Linked DNA regions of Homo sapiens. The protein of the gene in region 1 interacts with the protein of each later gene in a pairwise test. Each region holds a gene or a part of one and is shown in the gene's direction. Other genes may lie near its edges. The genes, in order: AXIN2, KRTAP10-10, CHIC2 and PSMB2.

Evidence for each region.
Region 2: the proteins of AXIN2 (region 1) and KRTAP10-10 interact in binary tests that used the Homo sapiens proteins (3 or more experiments, as listed by UniProt).
Region 3: the proteins of AXIN2 (region 1) and CHIC2 interact in binary tests that used the Homo sapiens proteins (3 or more experiments, as listed by UniProt).
Region 4: the proteins of AXIN2 (region 1) and PSMB2 interact in binary tests that used the Homo sapiens proteins (3 or more experiments, as listed by UniProt).

What each region holds. Positions count from the first base shown.
Region 1 is NC_000017.11:65,528,032-65,530,670, reverse strand, and holds the end of AXIN2 (axin-2), read left to right. Parts: intron 1-568; coding exon 569-695; 3' UTR 696-2,108; downstream 2,109-2,639. UniProt on the Homo sapiens protein: Inhibitor of the Wnt signaling pathway. Down-regulates beta-catenin. Probably facilitate the phosphorylation of beta-catenin and APC by GSK3B.
Region 2 is NC_000021.9:44,632,386-44,638,972, forward strand, and holds KRTAP10-10 (keratin-associated protein 10-10), read left to right. Parts: upstream 1-4,970; 5' UTR 4,971-5,032; coding exon 5,033-5,788; 3' UTR 5,789-6,070; downstream 6,071-6,587. UniProt on the Homo sapiens protein: In the hair cortex, hair keratin intermediate filaments are embedded in an interfilamentous matrix, consisting of hair keratin-associated proteins (KRTAP), which are essential for the formation of a rigid and resistant hair shaft through their extensive disulfide bond cross-linking with abundant cysteine residues of hair keratins.
Region 3 is NC_000004.12:54,009,277-54,012,646, reverse strand, and holds the end of CHIC2 (cysteine-rich hydrophobic domain-containing protein 2), read left to right. Parts: intron 1-2,501; coding exon 2,502-2,552; 3' UTR 2,553-2,858; downstream 2,859-3,370.
Region 4 is NC_000001.11:35,631,513-35,638,565, reverse strand, and holds part of PSMB2 (proteasome subunit beta type-2), read left to right. Parts: intron 1-2,133; coding exon 2,134-2,256; intron 2,257-7,028; exon of another isoform or gene 7,029-7,053. UniProt on the Homo sapiens protein: Non-catalytic component of the 20S core proteasome complex involved in the proteolytic degradation of most intracellular proteins. This complex plays numerous essential roles within the cell by associating with different regulatory particles.

The sequences.
Region 1 (2,639 bases):
CCAGGAGTGTTGCACTTGGGACCTGGAGGATGGGAAGGCCGAGAGGCCTTTGGACTGCTAAACCATCTGGAAGTCAGCCTTTTACAGACTTCGGCAGGTTCCGGCTCTCCAGGTGTGATGGGTTCAGGATGGCTGAACCTGGAGATAGTCTGGAGTCTCTTTGAAGGACCTGCTTGGCTCCTGCTGCAAAGGAACTGCAGGCATTTGTCCTTCCCTTCCCTCCCCCACCCCACTGCTGAAAAAGGTTGGCGGGGGGAAAGCAGCTCTGCTTTTCACAGTGTATACGTGTCAGGAGACAGCAGAGGTGCTGGGTTGAAGATTGCAGGTGGCAGGCCCAGCCCAGGCTGCTGCTCAGTGGGTGCCTGGCCTTCATCATCTCGGCCCACCTGCTTCTTGTGGTGTGGCCAGTCCCAGCTGCCGTCTTAAAGCAGATGTGCGCAACAGTGTACAGGCACACCTGCCATAGCAAATTCCTAGGATACCTCAGTCCTCCATGTTGGTATGCTTTTCTTTTCAACAATGTGGAAAATGCAGTTTACCAAGAAGCTTTTTTGGTTTTCCTTTTAAGGTATTACTTCAAAAAAGCAAGCGATGAGTTTGCCTGTGGAGCGGTGTTTGAGGAGATCTGGGAGGATGAGACGGTGCTCCCGATGTATGAAGGCCGGATTCTGGGCAAAGTGGAGCGGATCGATTGAGCCCTGGGGTCTGGCTTTGGTGAACTGTTGGAGCCCGAAGCTCTTGTGAACTGTCTTGGCTGTGAGCAACTGCGACAAAACATTTTGAAGGAAAATTAAACCAATGAAGAAGACAAAGTCTAAGGAAGAATCGGCCAGTGGGCCTTCGGGAGGGCGGGGGGAGGTTGATTTTCATGATTCATGAGCTGGGTACTGACTGAGATAAGAAAAGCCTGAACTATTTATTAAAAACATGACCACTCTTGGCTATTGAAGATGCTGCCTGTATTTGAGAGACTGCCATACATAATATATGACTTCCTAGGGATCTGAAATCCATAAACTAAGAGAAACTGTGTATAGCTTACCTGAACAGGAATCCTTACTGATATTTATAGAACAGTTGATTTCCCCCATCCCCAGTTTATGGATATGCTGCTTTAAACTTGGAAGGGGGAGACAGGAAGTTTTAATTGTTCTGACTAAACTTAGGAGTTGAGCTAGGAGTGCGTTCATGGTTTCTTCACTAACAGAGGAATTATGCTTTGCACTACGTCCCTCCAAGTGAAGACAGACTGTTTTAGACAGACTTTTTAAAATGGTGCCCTACCATTGACACATGCAGAAATTGGTGCGTTTTGTTTTTTTTTTTCCTATGCTGCTCTGTTTTGTCTTAAAGGTCTTGAGGGTTGACCATGTTGCGTCATCATCAACATTTTGGGGGTTGTGTTGGATGGGATGATCTGTTGCAGAGGGAGAGGCAGGGAACCCTGCTCCTTCGGGCCCCAGGTTGATCCTGTGACTGAGGCTCCCCCTCATGTAGCCTCCCCAGGCCCAGGGCCCTGAGGCCTGCTAGAATCACTGCCGCTGTGCTTTCGTGGAAATGACAGTTCCTTGTTTTTTTTGTTTCTGTTTTTGTTTTACATTAGTCATTGGACCACAGCCATTCAGGAACTACCCCCTGCCCCACAAAGAAATGAACAGTTGTAGGGAGACCCAGCAGCACCTTTCCTCCACACACCTTCATTTTGATGTTCGGGTTTTTGTGTTAAGTTAATCTGTACATTCTGTTTGCCATTGTTACTTGTACTATACATCTGTATATAGTGTACGGCAAAAGAGTATTAATCCACTATCTCTAGTGCTTGACTTTAAATCAGTACAGTACCTGTACCTGCACGGTCACCCGCTCCGTGTGTCGCCCTATATTGAGGGCTCAAGCTTTCCCTTGTTTTTTGAAAGGGGTTTATGTATAAATATATTTTATGCCTTTTTATTACAAGTCTTGTACTCAATGACTTTTGTCATGACATTTTGTTCTACTTATACTGTAAATTATGCATTATAAAGAGTTCATTTAAGGAAAATTACTTGGTACAATAATTATTGTAATTAAGAGATGTAGCCTTTATTAAAATTTTATATTTTTCAAAACACTGGCCTCGTCTTTGAATCCCCAGGGTGGGAACAGGGCCGAGGGGCCCTTTTGTGTGTAGACATCTGTGCTTGATTTCCTACCTTGCCCAAGCCCGTCTCTGACCTTGAGCCCTGACCTGATCTGGACCCACCTGGAGGTTTTGTAAAGCCATTTATTCAAATCACCTGGCTACTGGCTGAGGCTTTTCTTGCCTTGGAGCAGGCTGTAGATGACATCTCCTTTGGGGGTCCTCTTCCCTGTAACACCTCCATTCAGCCTCTTCCTCCTGGGCAGATTGTCTCCAGTCCGGCCAGGTAGGTGCAGGGGACCAGGGGATGAGAGGAGGCCCTCCCAGGAGTTTCAACAGGTGTCTCCGACATGAAAGCCGTTCAGCAGATGGTTTCATAGACCTGGAATGTCCACGTGGGGCCAATGGACTTAGAGATCAAAGCTAGCCAGGCACCCTCCCCATTCTGGGAGCTGATCAACAAGGCTGACTATTAATCCTATCAGTATTTTATCGTGAGCCATCAGGCTCAGGGCCGGTC
Region 2 (6,587 bases), on another chromosome or scaffold:
CCAATGAAATGATTCTTTGAAACTAAAGGAGAAATTAGGACACTTCTGGATAAATAAATGCTGAGAGAGTTTATTGCCAGTAGGCCTGCCCTACAAGAAATGACAGCTCAGGATGAAATCAAAGGGCACTAGACAATAACTTGAAGCCATATTAAGAAATAAAGAACTGGCTGGGCACAGTGGCTCACGCCTGTAATCCCAGCACTTTGGGAGGCTGAGGCGGGCAGATCAGAAGGTCAAGGGTTTGAGACCAGCCTGGCCAACATAGTGAAACTCCATCTCTGCTAAAAATACACACACAAAAAAAAATAGCTGAGTGTGGTGGTGGGCACCTGTAATCCCAGCTAGTTGGGAGGCTGAGGCAAGGAGAATCACTTGAACCTGGGAGGCAGAGGTTGCAGTGAGCCAAGATCGTGCCACTGCTCTCCAGCCTGGGTGGCAGTGCAAGACTCCATCTCAAAAAGAAAAAGAAGAAAAGAAATAAAGAACACTAATAAAGGTATCAGTTTTGGTAGTTTGTATGTTAATAGGAATTTATCCATTACATCTAGGTTATCTACATTATGAATGTATTTAATATCACTAAACATGCTTAAATGGAATAAATTTTATTGATTTTATGTGTTAGTGTACAATTGTTCATATATTCTCTTATAGTCTTTTTTATCTATATAGGTCAGCAGTAATGTTCCCACTTTCATTTCTGATTTTAATAATTAGAGCCTTCTCTTTTTTCTCAGTCTAGTTAAAGGTTTGTAAATTTTATTGTTGCTTTCAAAAAACTAATTTTAGGCTTCGTTGGTTCCATTGTTTTTCTATTCTCAATTTCTTTATTTGCTCCCTGTATTCTACATATAATCTTTATTTTCTTCCTTCTTCTAGGTTTTGGTTTAGTTTGCTCTTCCTTTTCCTGGTTCCTTAAGGTGTGAAGTTAGATTACTGAATTGAGATCTTTCTTGTTTTTTAATATAAGCATTTATAGCTACAAATTTCCCTCCATAAACTGTTTTGCCGTATCCCATAAGTTTTGGTTTGTTATATTGTCACTGTCATTTATCCCATAGTATTTTCTAACTTCTCTTTTGATTTATTCTTCAATCAACTGGTTGTTATAAGTATGTGTTGTTTAATTGCCACATATTTGTGAATTTTCCAGTTTTCCTTCTGTTATTGATTTCTAATTCCCACTGTGGTCAGAGAAGATACATTATATGATTTCAATAATTTTAAATTTATTGAGACTTGTTTTTTGGACTAACATATGGTCTAATCTGGAGAACTGAGAAGAATTTGTATTCTGCTGTTGTTGGGTTGAATGTTTTATACACGGCCATATTAGATCTAGCTTGTTTATAGTGTTCTTCAAGTTCTCTATTTCGTTATTGATCTTTGATCTAGTTCTATTTAAAAATTTTTTTTAATCAGTGGAAGTGACTTATTGAAGTCTTCAAACATTATTGTTGAACTGGAATTGCCTATTTCTTTCTTCTCTTCTTTCCATTTATGCTTGATATATCTTGGGGGTCTGATGTTTGTTAGGTACATGAATGTTTATAACTGATGTTAGGTACACAAATGCTATAAAATGATGGCTTATGCCTGTAATCCCAACTACTCAGGAGGTTGAGATGAGAGGATTGTTTAAGGCCAAGAGTTCGAGACCAGCCTGGGTAACAGAGTAAGACCCTGGTCCCTAAAAAAATATGTTTTTTCATTAGCCAAATATAGTGGTGTGCACCTGTAGTCCCAGCTACCTGGGAAACTGAGGTGGGAGGATCACTTAAGTCCAGGAGTTTGAGGCTGCAATGAGTTATGATTGTGCCACTGCACTCCAGCCTGGGCAACAGGCTGAGCAATACCCTGTCTCTGTTTTAATGGTGCTAGGACAACTGGATATCTACACACAAAATCATAAAGTTGCACTACATCTCACACCAACAAATTAACTAAAAATGGATCAAAGCCCTACATATATGAGATAAAGCCATAAAATTCTTAGAAGGAAACATAAGAGTAAATATGTATGACCTTATTTTGGGCAATGGTTTTTTAGATATGACACCAGAAGCATAAGCAACAAAAGGAAAAAATAGATAAATTGGATGTCATCAAAATTAAAAAGTTTTGTGCATCAAAGGACACTATCAAGAGAGTAAAACAACCCACACAAGGGAAGAACATGCTTGTAAATCATAATTCTGATAAGGATCTAACACCCAGAATATATAAAGAACTCTTATAATTCAACAACAAAAAGTCAACCCAATTTAAAAATAGGCAAAGTCCTTTAATAGACATTTCTCCAAGGAGGATATGCAAATGGATGATACACGCAGGAAAAGAAGCTCAATGTTATTGGTCATTAGGGAAACAGAAATCCACACCACAATGACATGCTGTTGATACTTCATACCCACCAAGATGGCTATAATTTAACACACACATACACCAACAAATAGAAGGTAGCAGATGTTGACAAGGATGAAGAGAAACTGGAATGTTTGTACATTGCTAGTGAGAATATAAAATGGTACAGATGCTGTGAAAAACAGTCTGGCACGTCCTCAAAATGTAAACATGGAATTCCATACAACTCATCAGTTCCCACTCCTAGGTATATACCCAACAGAATTAAAAAGAGGTGTTCAAACAGAAACATGTACAAGAATGTTTATAGGGCCGGGCGCAGTGGCTCATGCCTGTAATCCCAGCACTTTGGGAGGCCGAGGCGGGAGGATCACTTGAGGTCAGGAGTTCAAGACCAGCCTGGCCAACATGGTGAAACCCCGTCTCTACCAAAAATATAAAAAATTAGCTGGGTGTGGTGGTGCGCACCTGTAATCCCAGCTACTTGGGAGGCTGAGGCAGGAGAATCACTTGTACCCGGGAGGTGGAGGTTGCAGTGAGCCGAGATGGGGCCACTGCACTCCAGCCTGGGTGACAGAGGGAGACTCTGTCTCAAAAAAAAAAAAAAAAAAAAAGAATGTTTATAGAAGCACTATTCACACTAGCCAAAAGTTGAAAAGAACCCAAAAGTGCATTAGCAGATGAATGGATAAATGAAATGTGGCGTGTCCCTTTGATGGAATATGATTCAGCCAAGAAAAGGAATGGCGTTCTGAAACATACCCAAACACAGGTGTACCTTGAAAACATGCTGAGTGAACAAAGCTAGACACAAAGACCACATATTCCATGACTGCGTCTATATGAAATGTGCAGAACAGGCAAATCCATAGAGACAAGCAGAATAGTATTGGTTGCCAGGGGCTGGGCATGGCTGCTTAATAGTACCGGGGTTCCTTCGGGAGCGATGATAGTATTCTGGAACTAGGTAGTGGGGATGGTTGCACAACATTATGACTGTACTGTCACTGAATTGCACACTTTAAAATGGGTAAAATGGTACATTTTATTTTATGGTTGATCACAATTTAAATAAAATTACACCTGCCAAGGGTTTCTAAGAATGAAGCCCCTCGCTCTGCAATGCTGGATATTATCAGCATTTTAAATCTTGTTTGCTCTTACAGGTGGGAGACGTGTGTTTAAACCTGAGAAACTTTAGTTATTAATGAGATCAACTAGCTGTTCATCTCATTCATGCTTATTGGAAATTTAAAATTTTTAGTCTTCTATTCATTTCTTTTGTATCTTATCCTGTTTTAGTGGTAAGGACTTCAAATTTTTCACATTAATCTTCCACCTGTCATGGAGATTACAAGTACTTTCTGGCAGTTCATATCTTCATTTGTGTACCCAATGATTCCTTCAGGGCTGTGATGGGAACGTCGTGGATGCTGAGCTGAGCTGAGGCATGTGGACCGGTCTCCAGCACCCAACCCTGCCGGGTTTCCAGGGGACATACGTTGTATGTGTTCTGGTCAAGGTTTATGCTTTCGTTCACATCTGACCCTCTGACATTCCACTGGGCATTTTATACTTGGGTCTGCTGGCTGACGGGCTTCCTTTCCCATTGTATTTCCACACTGTCATGGCAGGGGTACAGGTAGGGGGTGCTGGGTGCAGTGACTTTGTCTCTCATCCAGCCCTTCAGTGAGCGTGGCCTGGGACAGTCACTCTGATCCTAGGTGGACAATGATGTCACCTACAGATACTAGAAATTCACATCACATTTCAACTTCTTGGCATGTGGCTTCAGCCAAAGTGCAAACATAGAGTAAGACCAGGCGTCCGGGCAGTGGGGCTGACTGTGGCCCCATCTGACACTTTTCTCATCCAGACCCCAAGTATCCTCCACTCTCCACGCAACCCTCACTCCACACCTGCCTCTCCAAGGTAGAGGCCCCTCCCCACCCTCAGACCCTGACCTGCACCCGCCCCTCTCAGGACACCTGACCAGGGCTCCAGGGGATGGCAGTCCAGACCCAAAGGCCAGTCCCCAAACCTTGTCCTCCTAATGAGCTGACTGTCCAGAGGCCTTGCCAGAACATTCCATCTCCTCAGAGGAGGGGAGGTCCTCCCTGTCCTCCTGCCCTTGGCAGACATCAGGATCTCAGAAGATCCCAGAGCCCGCCAGGAAGCGCTGTCTTCAAGCATCTTTTCCCAACACAGGCACCTCCGTCCTGGCTCTCCCAATCTCAGCCACGCCAGCCCACCCCGTGAGGTCCCTGCAGACAGAGGCTGGGCCTCCCCCAGGCTGAGGGCCCACGCTGGGCACAGTCACGGGACCTGCCAGGTGGAAGTCACCAGGTCAGCCCCAGAGAGGTCACACCTTCCCTCCTGGTGTTCCCGGGAGACAGGCTCAGCCAGGGGCGCCGGTCCTGCCCAGGACCAGCCAAGTGTTAGGAGCAGAGTGAGGACAAGTCATGGCAAAGGAAGCAGAAATAATGAGGGTCCTCCCGGCTCCAAACACCAACACGGAAGGGGAGGGCATTGCTGAGTCTCCTGCTGGGAAAACACAGGCCCTGGGCATATAAAAGCCCCAGCAGCTGACAGGCTCACACACACACTCACTCACACACTCACTCACTCACACACCTCCCCCAGCTCACCGCCTCCCCACTCCAGCATGGCCGCCTCCACCATGTCCATCTGCTCCAGCGCCTGCACTGACTCTTGGCGGGTAGTCGACTGCCCAGAGAGCTGCTGCGAGCCCTGCTGCTGTGCCCCAGCCCCCAGCTTGACCCTGGTCTGCACCCCAGTGAGCTGTGTGTCCAGCCCCTGCTGCCAGACGGCCTGTGAGCCCAGCGCCTGCCAATCAGGCTACACCAGCTCCTGCACAACCCCATGCTACCAGCAGTCTAGCTGCCAGCCGGATTGCTGCACCTCCTCCCCCTGCCAGCAGGCCTGCTGTGTGCCTGTCTGCTGTGTGCCCGTCTGCTGCGTGCCCGTCTGTAACAAGCCTGTGTGCTTCGTGCCTACCTGCTCCGAGTCTTCCCCTTCATGCTGCCAGCAGTCTAGCTGCCAGCCAACTTGCTGCACCTCCTCCCCATGCCAGCAGGCCTGCTGTGTGCCTGTCTGCTCTAAGTCCGTCTGCTATGTGCCTGTGTGCTCTGGGGCTTCCACTTCATGCTGCCAGCAGTCTAGCTGCCAGCCTGCTTGCTGCACCGCCTCCTGCTGCAGACCCTCCTCCTCCGTGTCCCTCCTCTGCCACCCTGTGTGCAAGTCCACCTGCTGCGTGCCCGTCCCCTCCTGCGGTGCCTCTGCCTCCTCCTGCCAGCCCAGCTGCTGCCGCACGGCCTCCTGTGTTTCCCTCCTCTGCCGCCCCGTGTGCTCCCGCCCTGCCTGCTACAGCCTCTGCTCTGGCCAGAAGTCCAGCTGCTGACAGCCCTGGATGTGATCCGGAGTCCCTTCCCACCAGGGGCTGACCTCCCAGCTGCCCCAGCAAGCTCTGCCCTCTCTGGCTTTGACACCCTCAGAAGGTGGGGCAGGCTCTTTGTCTTGGGGACCAGGATGCTCCCCCAGTCCTTCCCAGATGATGGCTGCCTGTGGGACCCCAGCTACTCCCCCAGACCCAAGTTCTGCAGAACTAACCCCCAGCAGGCCTGGTTCCACCCTGGGCAGCACCCCCTCTAGTTCTAATAAAGCCGCCTCTGTCTCACACCAACCTCTGTCCTGTCTGTGGACCCCCGGGGGGGCACAGGGTGAGGTGGGAAGTGATGCCACCCCTGACTGCAGGGAGAGTCCTGACCCCCAGCAGGCCTGGCTCCACCCCTCTGTCTCTGTCGACCTTCCATCCTGTCTGTGGACCCCCGAGGGGCATGGGATGAGGCAGGAAGCAATGCCTTCTGGTGCTGGCCTCTGTGAACCCTGAAGGCCAGTCTCCCTCTTAGCCCCGTGGGCCCCCAACCCCAGCACGTGGCCCCCCGGCCCATCTTAGGAAAGCTGCCTCTGGAACCAAGGCCAGGAGTTTCGGGACAAAGTGGACCCTGGCAGCACTCTGGGCCCCTGAGCCACATTCACCCTCCCCAGCTCCATGGCTGCCCCCCAGGCCTGGGGTAGACCACCTGGGGCCTGGCTCCACCCAGCAGCCTCACCCCTCCTGTTACCCCTGGGGAGACCAGCTATGGACCACAGTGCTCATCCCTGCAGCCCTCATCTCCTCCACAGTAAGACATTGGGAC
Region 3 (3,370 bases), on another chromosome or scaffold:
GATAGAGGGTTTATGTATATATTTTGGGGAGAGGGATGGATAGGAGATGTAAAGAATTTAGTGAAAAAAATATTTACTACATTTATAACACAAACACTAAGCTTAAAACTGAGGTATTAATTTTTTCATGCATTTCTAAATTTACTTTGGAAAGGAAAACATAAAAGTTATCCCAATGCTATGAATTCCAGATAGAACTATATGACTATAATTTATTCATAAAATAATTTATAACCTTCCAAAACATTCTGAACTATATGCTTTGTTTGTCAAATAAGTTTCCTTGAATTTTTAGATAATTAAGCACTTCTGCTAAAGCCATTATATTATTTTCACTCCATCATAGAAGATACCCAGAAGAGTAGTAAAGATAAAATAAATATTTCAATTGCCAGGAAAAAGCTGGGTGTAGTGGGCATGCCAGTAGTCTAGCTGGGGAGGCTGAGGCAGCAGGATCACTTGCGTCTAGGAGTACAAAGACAGTTTGGGTAACATAGCAATACCCACCTCTCTTTAAAAAAAATAATAATAAGCTGGGGAGAAAAAATGTGTTCTGCTGGATTTTCTTAGAGTATATATATATATTTGTGATAGTTGAAAGTGAGAATAATGTAGCTTAAAAAATTTATAAAAATGAATTTTAAAAGTTAAACTAGCAAATAAAATTCATTTTATCTAATGAATTTGGGCCTTTTTAACCATGTGTCCCTCTTTTCTTCAACTTTTCTTTAACTTACAGGAATTTAATTTTGTTAAAAGAAAATAATTATCCTTGATTATAATTTGAACATTGGAGATACTAAAAAATATATATATATATATTCCACCTTGGCACTAACTTTTCTTTGTTCAGATATGGTAGAGATGGATGATTTAGAATAAATGAGACAAGTGGCCAGTCTCTATGTGTGGCTTCTGAAGGAAAAATTTGTAGAATATATTATTTAAAAACTAATAGTTCAAATGTAGGCAAAGATAGCCTTTATTTTATGTTATGTATTAAAAGTGTATATTATAAAGTGTGGGGATGCCCATACCTGGGGACTAAAATTATAAAGACTGATTGAGGACATACTTGAAATACAAAATTATTTATTTAATGTTGACTCCTAAGTAGTTTAAACATTTAATTGTCAAATTTTAAAGCTGCAAAGAATCTTGTTATCTAGTTCAATGCTTTTATTTTATAGATAAGAAACCTGAGAAACAGGAAAATCTAGCTCAAATGAAGAAGCTAGTTGGGAGAAAGTATTTTAACAGGGAGCTAGTGAATATTTTGTAGGCAAATCACAGGTCAGGAGAGTGGCAAATGTGACAGCTAAGCCTTAGTGCAGGATACCTAGAGTAGGACAGGAATATTTTTGAGCCAGGTATAGAAGTGTATCTTCTTTATTGAGGCAGATCAAAAGCCAGGAGAACTGAAGAGTGAAAATGAAGATTCCTGGCCCAGACAGCTAATTTGTAGAAGTATTGAAATCTGGAGGTCATATCAAGCAAGACACAGTTTCTGAAAAAGAATGATGAGTTCACTAGACTTAGAAACTTTTAAAATCAAATAATTTTTAAATCACCATCTATTTAATACAAATTTGGAGCAAAAGAAAGAGTTGACTGTAATTTAAGAAAATTCAAATTTGGAAAAATTAGCTCTGGTCACTTTGTGTAATTCTGTGTTACCATATTTTGTTTTTGTTGGTTTTCCTTTAGTTTCCTATTAAAAGGCCTTTTGGAACAAATTTTAGCCTTTAATTTTGCTAACCTAAGAAGAAATGGACTTTTTAAAAAATTAAGAGATAAAGGACCTTTTATCTAAAGATTACATATTCTGGTAGAGTAAAATGAGAGCAACTCTAGAACTTAGAGAAGACTCATGTAGTTGGGTTGATTAAAAAGGAGAAAGTCTAAAGAAAAATGTTGGGTGAGCTGCAGTCACGTAGGGTGGTATAAAGGGCAAGGCTTTGGAGTTAAGACAGTCTTTTATTCAAACAGTGACTCCACATTCAATTGTGATACAACTTCTCTGGATCATCAGTTTCCTCATCTGTGAAATAAGGATTATAATACTTGCCTCATAGAAAAGTTGTTGGGTTTAAAGAGACCCAATGTAGTATGGAACACCTGGTATACAGTTAGTTCTAAGTAAATACTAGCCTCTTTTCTCATGAGTGCAGGGGAGCGTGCATGTATGCATGTTTGCTCCTCCAGTGTATCAGGGGCACTATCTATATCACCCTTCTCAGACTTTGGTGATTTTACTTGCTTATTTGTCTTCCTTTTCATAGAGCCAAGGTATTTCGTGTATTTGGTAAAGGTCCAGAAATAAAAAGAAAAATTCTCAGTGATGGAACTCTGCATTATCAGATAAAGATCTGTTTTAGTAATGCAAAGTTGCGTTTTAAAATGTGAATGGATTTTCAAAAAAATTGTGAAAGCATATAATTGAAGTTTTAAGAAAAAATTTTGTTTAAATCTTTTAAAACCTTTTTCTTCTCCTTTTACAGGTCATCCTCATAGAATTTTTACCAAAGACACCGATTTTTCGACCAGATTAGCATTTACTTTATTTATAGAGACTTTCCAAGTATGTTGTCTTTCCAATGGTGCCTTGCTTGGTGCTCTCCTGGTGGTGACATAACATTGGTTCTACAGAATCGTGTGGTGTTTTTTTTGTTTTTGTTTTTGTTTTTTTTTTAAATAACCGCATGTTCTAAGTGTGCATTTTTGTCAATCTTTGCAACAGTTATTTCATACAGATGTTTAATACTTAAGTTATTGTGCTCTTTTCTGTTATGTATTCTGATTTTCAAGGATTACTTTTTTGTATTATCAAAAAAATACATTTGAACTTAGCATAAAAAGTGGCCAGCCTTTTTTATTTTGTCACCAAGGTACACACAGTCCTTTATTTATAAATTCCTTAACAGAGAAAAACACCTTTGTAAGGCTCAACTTACCTATTCCAGCAAGCACACTTTTTCTGTCATTTTTTCTTTCTTTTCAAATTTGATATTGTCATTATTTTAAAATAGTAAGTTTTCTTTAATAGTCTTTTGGGACCTAACATACCCTTTCTCATACAATTCCTAATGCTCTGTTTATGGCAGATAATCTGTAATGTTATGAAGACCTATCAAAAAGTTTTAAAAGTATTTCTGTCTTCAAAGGTAGTAAGACAGGATTAAATTTTTATTAGAATAGACAAATCAGTGAATGGTATGCATGTATCTAGTGGTTACTAGAACTCAGGATCACACAATATAGTAGCATCACGATCTGTGTATATTTTTGATCAAGATGATAATAATGGCCTTACTTGGGTTTTTATCGTTTATCAAATCTTACATACAAAAGAGTGGAAGTATTCCTTTAC
Region 4 (7,053 bases), on another chromosome or scaffold:
GTTTTTCTCACTTGTGAGTTAGACAGGGGTAAGTCATATTATTAACATTTCACACATTTGGAAATAACATTTCACACATCTGGAAACTGGGGCTTAGAGAGGACAAGTAATTTGCCGAAGTTCAGAGTGCCAAGTCCACATCATAACCAAGGTCTCTTGGATTCTAGTTCAGTTGGTTTTCCACAGTATGACATGCTAATGTTGTTCATTTTGTTGGCCATTTGTTTCATGTATGTGGATCTCGTAAGTTCCTCGTCAAGAATCAGAAATTCCCCAGAGCTACACAGGCAGTTTCCTGTACAACTCAGGGGTCTCTAAGTATCTATCTCTTGTGTTTTTATTAAATATGTTGCCCTCTGCTACTCATTGGACATATTCAGTGTTTAAAAAACATTTTTGGCCTTGTATTAAGCTAATTTTAAAGTTGAACAGGTTACTGCCTAGGATTTTAGCCTTTCTTCTAAGTGTGACATAAGTTCTTTGTAAACAAGCTCCCCCTTCAAATAAAAATATCTTTTTTCTTATTATAAAAATAATGCGAACTTATTGAATAATGCTTTCTTATAAAAGTGAGGCATGTTAAGTATAGAAGTTTTAGGAAAAACCAACAAGCAAAAGAAGGAAACGAAAACTGCCCATACTCTTACCACTGGCAAGCACTTAGAATATACCCTTCTGCTCCTTTTTCTTTGCATAGATAATATAAGTGAATGTTTTTCGTTTATTAACAAGTTTGCAAACTAACAATCTTTAAATCTAGCCTGCATAACAAATAAAAGTGTGTTTGTTTAGGAGTTTTGAGGCAATTTGATATTATCTACAGGTGCATTTTGTGTGTTTTTTCCCTCCAAGTCTAAGAAGCCATATTACTGGTATCTACAACTCTGAAACACTTGTAAAGTATTTGACAGTAGCATTTTGTTCTTTAAATCCTATTAAAGGATTTTGGCATTTCAGAAGCTTTCAAACAGGAAACGTGTCTCCCAGGGAGGATTATTCAGCACTATTTGAAAAATGAAAAGTGAAAGTGAAAGTGAGATAGGAAGATTTAGGCCTTTTCTGAAGCTGCAGACTGAATGTGGAGTTTTCTTCCTTAGGCAATAACTGTAACCTGAATATTTATTTATCTGTCTAATCTGAATGACTCTGGTTCAGCTAGATAAGATTAGAGTATTAGGATTTTTGTGAGGTATTTTAAATAGCTTACTGTCAAAATATTCACTAGAATTTTTGCTTTGGCAATCATTTTAATTTTCTCTTTTTCTTTGGAAGTGGAATTTGTTTACTTTTTAAAGTGATTAATATTCTCAGTTGATTTTCTATTCTTTCTTGAAATGGTTCCTTAATTTTAATTATAGCACCAGTCCTTTTCATATATGCTTTTGTATGTGTATAAATATAATAACTAACATTTGTAGTTGTGGAAACATTTTAGGGCTTTGTTATCATGAGCCTAAAGATAATCGCCATTGGCTGGATTCCTTCAGTTTCTTCTGTCGTTCTGTTCCTTGCATTTCAAATGCCTTTAAATGCTTTAAATTGTATTTTCAATTGGTAGCTTTCATGTATATTCTCCAACCGAAATTGGCATTACACAATATGCTGATGGTTTAACATGAAGAGTGAAAGAGAAAAATTGATACCATTACCTATTAAAATCTTCTAAAAGCAATAATTAGTTAAATTATTCAATATACAGTCGTCCCTTGGTATCTGTAGGGATTGGTTCCAGAACCCCTGCAGATACCCAAATCCATAGATGCTTAAAGTCCATTATATACATGGTATAGTATTTGCATATTACCTATGCAGGTACTCCTGTGTACTTCAAATCATCTCTAGATTATTTATAATACTTAATATGACATAAGTGCTATGTAAATAGTTGTTATACCATATTGTTTAGGGAATAATGACCAGAAAAAAAGTCAGTACATGTTCAGGATAGATGCAAGCATCCATTTTTTTTTTTTTCTGAATAATTTTGATCCATAGTTTGTTGAATTGTGGATTCAGAATCCATGTATATGGAAGGCCAACTGTAGTAATTAATAAACCTGTTTATGGTTACATAAATAATGACGGTCAATGTCTGTTAAGGCAGTTTCTAACACAGTTTTCTTCTTTGAGCAGATCATGACAAGATGTTTAAGATGAGTGAAAAGATATTACTCCTGTGTGTTGGAGAGGCTGGAGACACTGTACAGTTTGCAGAATATATTCAGAAAAACGTGCAACTTTATAAGATGCGAAATGGTGGGTAAGACTTACAGTTTTAGTTGGCATATGAGTTTACTAGGGCTGCCATTACTAAAGTCACAGACTGGGTGGCTTAAACAACAGAAATGTATTTTCTCACAGTTCTAGATGTTAGAAGTCAAAGATTAAGGTGTTGGCAGCGTTGATTTCTGAGGCCTCTCTCCTTGGCTTGCAGATAGCCATCTTCTCCCTGTGTCTTCACGTGATTTTTCTCTTTGTACTATATCCAAATTTTCTCTTCTAAGAATACCAGTCATGTTGAATTAGGAACTCATTTTAATTTAATAACCTCTTAAGGATCCCTTCTCCAAATACAGTCACATACTAAAGTACTAGGGATTAAGACTTCAACATATGAATTTTTGGTGGACAAAATTCAGCCTATAACAATTGGTTTGTCTTTAAATTTGAACTGAAAAATAATATTCTTTAAGACTTATGTGGTCATATTTTCTTTTTTTTTTTTTTTTTTTTTTTTGAGACGGAGTCTCGCTCTGTTGCCCAGGCTGGAGTGCAATGGCGCGATCTCTGCTTACTGCAACCTCCGCCTCCCAGGTTCAAGCGATTCTCCTGTCTCAGCCTCCTGAGTAGCTGGGACTACAGGCACGCACCACCACGTCCAGCTAATTTTTGTATTTTTAGTAGAGACAGGGTTTCACCACGTTGACCAGGATGGTCTCCATCTCTTGACCTTGTGATCTGCCCACCTCGGCCTCCCAAAGTGCTGGGATTACAGGCGTGAGCCACCACGCCCAGCCCATATTTTCATTAGAGTTTTCTGTGTTTAAGAAGTTGTCTAGACCCTAAAGATTCTAATCCTTCATAAAAGATTTTCTACAAAAATCCTAGAGCAGAGAACTGTTGTAACACTGATAGCTGATAGATAAAACTAACACCATCGGCCTGGTATGATGGCTCATGCCTGTAATCCCAGCAATTGGGGAGGACAAGGTGGGAGGATCACTTGAGACCAGGAGTTTAAGACTAGCCTGAGCAATGTAGTGACACCTCATCTCTACAAAAAAAAAAAAAATTTTTTTTTTTTTTGAGATGGAGTTTCACTCTTGTTGTCCAGGCTGGAGTGCAGTGGCACAATCTCGGCTCACCGCAACCTCTGCCTTCCAGGTTCAAGCAATCCTCCTGCCTCAGCCTCCCAAGTAGCTGGGATTACAGGCATGTGCCACCACGCCTGGCTAATTTTGTATTTTTAGTAGAGACAGGGTTTCTCCATGTTGGTCAGGCTGGTCTCAAACTCATGACCTCAGATGATCTGCCCACCTCGGCCTCCCAAAGTTCTGGGATTACAGGTGTGAGCCACCACGCCCGGCCTTCTACAAAAAAGTTTTTAAAAATTAGCTGAGTGTGGTGGCATGCACCTATAGCCCTAGCTACTCAGGAGGCTGAGGCAGGAAGATCGTTTGAGCCCAGGAGGTCGAGGCTGCAGTGAGTTATGATTGTGCCACTGTACTCTGGAAGGCAGCAAGACTCTGTCTCTAAAAAAAATTTTTTTAAACCAACCAAAAAAAAAAAAACCCAACACCATCTTGGAGGTAGGGATGGTAGTATCAGACTTTTTAAGTGTTAGATATCTCAGAGGATGTGGTTTGAGTTTAAAAGTATCTGAACCTGGCCAGGCACAGTGGCTAGCACCTGTAATCCCAGCACTTTTGAGAGGCTGAGATGGGAGGATCACTTGAGGTCAGGAGTTTGAAACCAGCCTAGGCAACAAAGCAAGACCCTGGCTCTATAAAAAATAAAAATATTTACCTGGGTGCAGTGGTGCACACCCATAGTCCCAGCTACTCAGGAAGCTGAAGTGGGAAGATCACTTGAGCCCAGGAGTTCAAGGTCTCAGTGAGCCATGATAGTGCCACTGCACTCCAGCCTGTGCGACAGAGTGAGACCCTGTCTCAAAACAAAGAAACAAAAAAATCTGAATCTCAGCGTCAAAAAACCTAAGTAAACCTTGGCTTTACTATTTTTTATGTGATAAGTCATTTATCTTCTCTGGGACTTTATTTTCCTTATCTCTGAAATGAATTATAATACTAATGAATAATACATATGAAAATATTTTGTAAACCTAAAGCATTGTGTAACTAACTATAAGTATTTACTGTGCCATAAAAGGGTTCTGCCTTACTCTCTGGTAGGTTTCCTTCTAGAGAGATAATTAAGACTTTTGTGAAGTATTTTGTGAGCTCTCTCTGGGGCTAATGAACTCTTATCCACTGGGAAAACCTCCCTAGCAAACGATACTAGCCACTAGGCCTCTGATCCAGGAATGTTTGTAGTGGTGGTCTGGCAGAGAAAACCTTATTTCCACTTACCTCACAGTTCAATAACAACGTTATACACTGCACTGGTATAATATGGAGCTATGAAGGAAGTTAATTTGAATATACTTGCATGTGTAAAATGACCAAAGATCTATTCACATAGTTTGGGCAGTGGATTTAGCATTTGTATTCAATTCCATAAATACTTTTGAGGGCCTCTTCTATGGTAAGCATTCTGCTTAATACTTAAGAGAATTCAAAGATGAATAAGGCTTAGTCCTGACATTCAGGAACATAAAGTACATGGTACTTAGGTTTATGCAGGTTTAGAATATTTCAAGAATTCTGCTTTTTTTTCCAGTGGTTCCACTTTTTGCCTGCATAACAAATGAAGTATGTCAGTAATGCTTCTGAAGTCCAGTAGGTACTGTATGACTTCACTGGCTGTCCTGAGAGAGGGAGAAGAGTGAACAAGAGTAGCAAGAGTTGTTTGTTACTGGGTTTTAGGGTCTAAAGTCAGTGCACAGACAAAAACTGTGTTTGGTTAAAATTGCCCTTAAAGACCCTTAAATTACCTGCCAAGTACAGTTTTGTGTATGTAACTCTATATAGTAATTCTTATATAAGTTAAAGAACTGAGCTAAAATAAGGGAAAGAAAGAGAAAATCTATATGCAGATAATCAGGCATGACTTTTCTGCCTTTAGGATAATGGTCAGATCTTCAGTGGTGTTTAGGGGGTTAAGTAAAGAATTGAATAGTATTCCCACTTGTCTAGGTTCCTTCTTTTTTTTTTTTTTTCTTTTTTGAGTCAGGGTCTCGTTCTGTTGCTCAGATTGGAGTGCAGTGGTGCAGTCTCAGCCCACTGCAACTTCCAGCTCCTGGGTGCAAGTGATTCTCGTGCCTCAGCCTCCTGAGTAGTTGGGATTATAGGCATGCACCGCCATGCCTGGCTAATTTTTTGTATTTTAAGTAGAGACAGAGTTTCGCTATGGTGGCCAGGCTGGTCTTAAACTCCTGTCCCCAGGTGATCCACCCACCTGGGCCTCCCAAAGTGTTCTGGGATTACAGGTGTGAGCCACTGTGCCTGGCCTCTTTTTTTAAATTATTATTATTATTTTTGTTGTTGTTGTTGAGACAGGGTCTCACTCCTGTCGCCTGGGCTGGAGTGCAGTGGCACAATCATGGCTCATTGCAGCCTCGAATTCCCAGGCTCAGGTGATCCTTCCACCTCAGCCTCCCAACTACCTGGGAAAACAGGTGTGCACCACCACCCCTGGCTAATTTTTATATTTTTAGTAGAGACGGGGTTTCATCATGTTGCCCAGAATGGTCTTAAACTCCTGGGCTCGAGTGATCTGCCTGCCTCCGCTTCCCAAAGTGCTGTGATTACAGGCATGAGCCACTGCACCTGGCCAAGGATTGCTTTCATTATGATTTAATATGCACTAATAGACTTGTGAGGATAAAGTACAATAATACATGTGAAAACACTCAGCATAGACCCTGAAACATAGTTGCTGCTCAATAAATATTTGTTAGGATTTGAATCTGAATCTCTCCTAATTTGACAGTGGTATTTGAAATGTTGTAAGCAATTACTTAACCACACTGCTGTGTGTCTTTCCATACTGACATTTTCTGTGTGGGCCCACTGAGTTATGGATCATTCTTGTGCCTTTTGGCACTGGTCCCATTCTACAGGGGGATTAAGCTCCAAAGTGAATGCGTTATTACATGCACACCTGATGCTATTCCTCTGGGTTGTACCTTTGTTGGTATGACAACTTTTATTTTTGAAGTTTTAACACTTGAGATACTCTATTTTTAAAAATACTGCAGAATGATGGAAATGTTCTTTTTCTGTGGCTTATACTTTTGAAAGTCATATTATACTTCTTAATAAAGTAACATTTAAAATATTTTTTTAATAAACTATGACTCTGAGGTAGTCCTAACTTCTAGCCTCTCTTTTCCCAATATCCTTTTTGTTCCTGTTTTCGTTTTTTTAGAGACAGGGTCTTGCTCTGTCACCCATGCTGTAGTGCAGTGGCACAGTCATAACTCACTTGAACTTCTGGGGTCAATTGATCCTCTCCACTCAGCCTCCTAAGTAGCTGGGATTACAGGCATGTACCACCATGCCTAGAAATTTAAAAAAAAATTTTTTTTAGAGATGGGGGTCTCACTATGTTGCCCAGGCTAGTCTCAAACTCCTGGGCTCAAGCGATCTTCCCACCTTGGCTTCCCAAAGCTCTAGGATTACAGGCATGAGCCACTGTGACTGGCCCCCAATATCCTTTTTAAAATAAACTTTTAAAAGATTGGCATCTAAGACGCCTTTCTTTTTTTTTCACTTCTTGTGTATTCGTGTTCCTTTCCTTCTACGGCAGAAACCACAGTGTGTTGATGAATGAATAGTTTAAGCAAGGCTGCTAGAAGTTTCATTCCACTATAGAACTGGTTCTGTTTGTGGCCAAGAATTGCTGTCAGTACTAACCAGCTATTTCATAGCT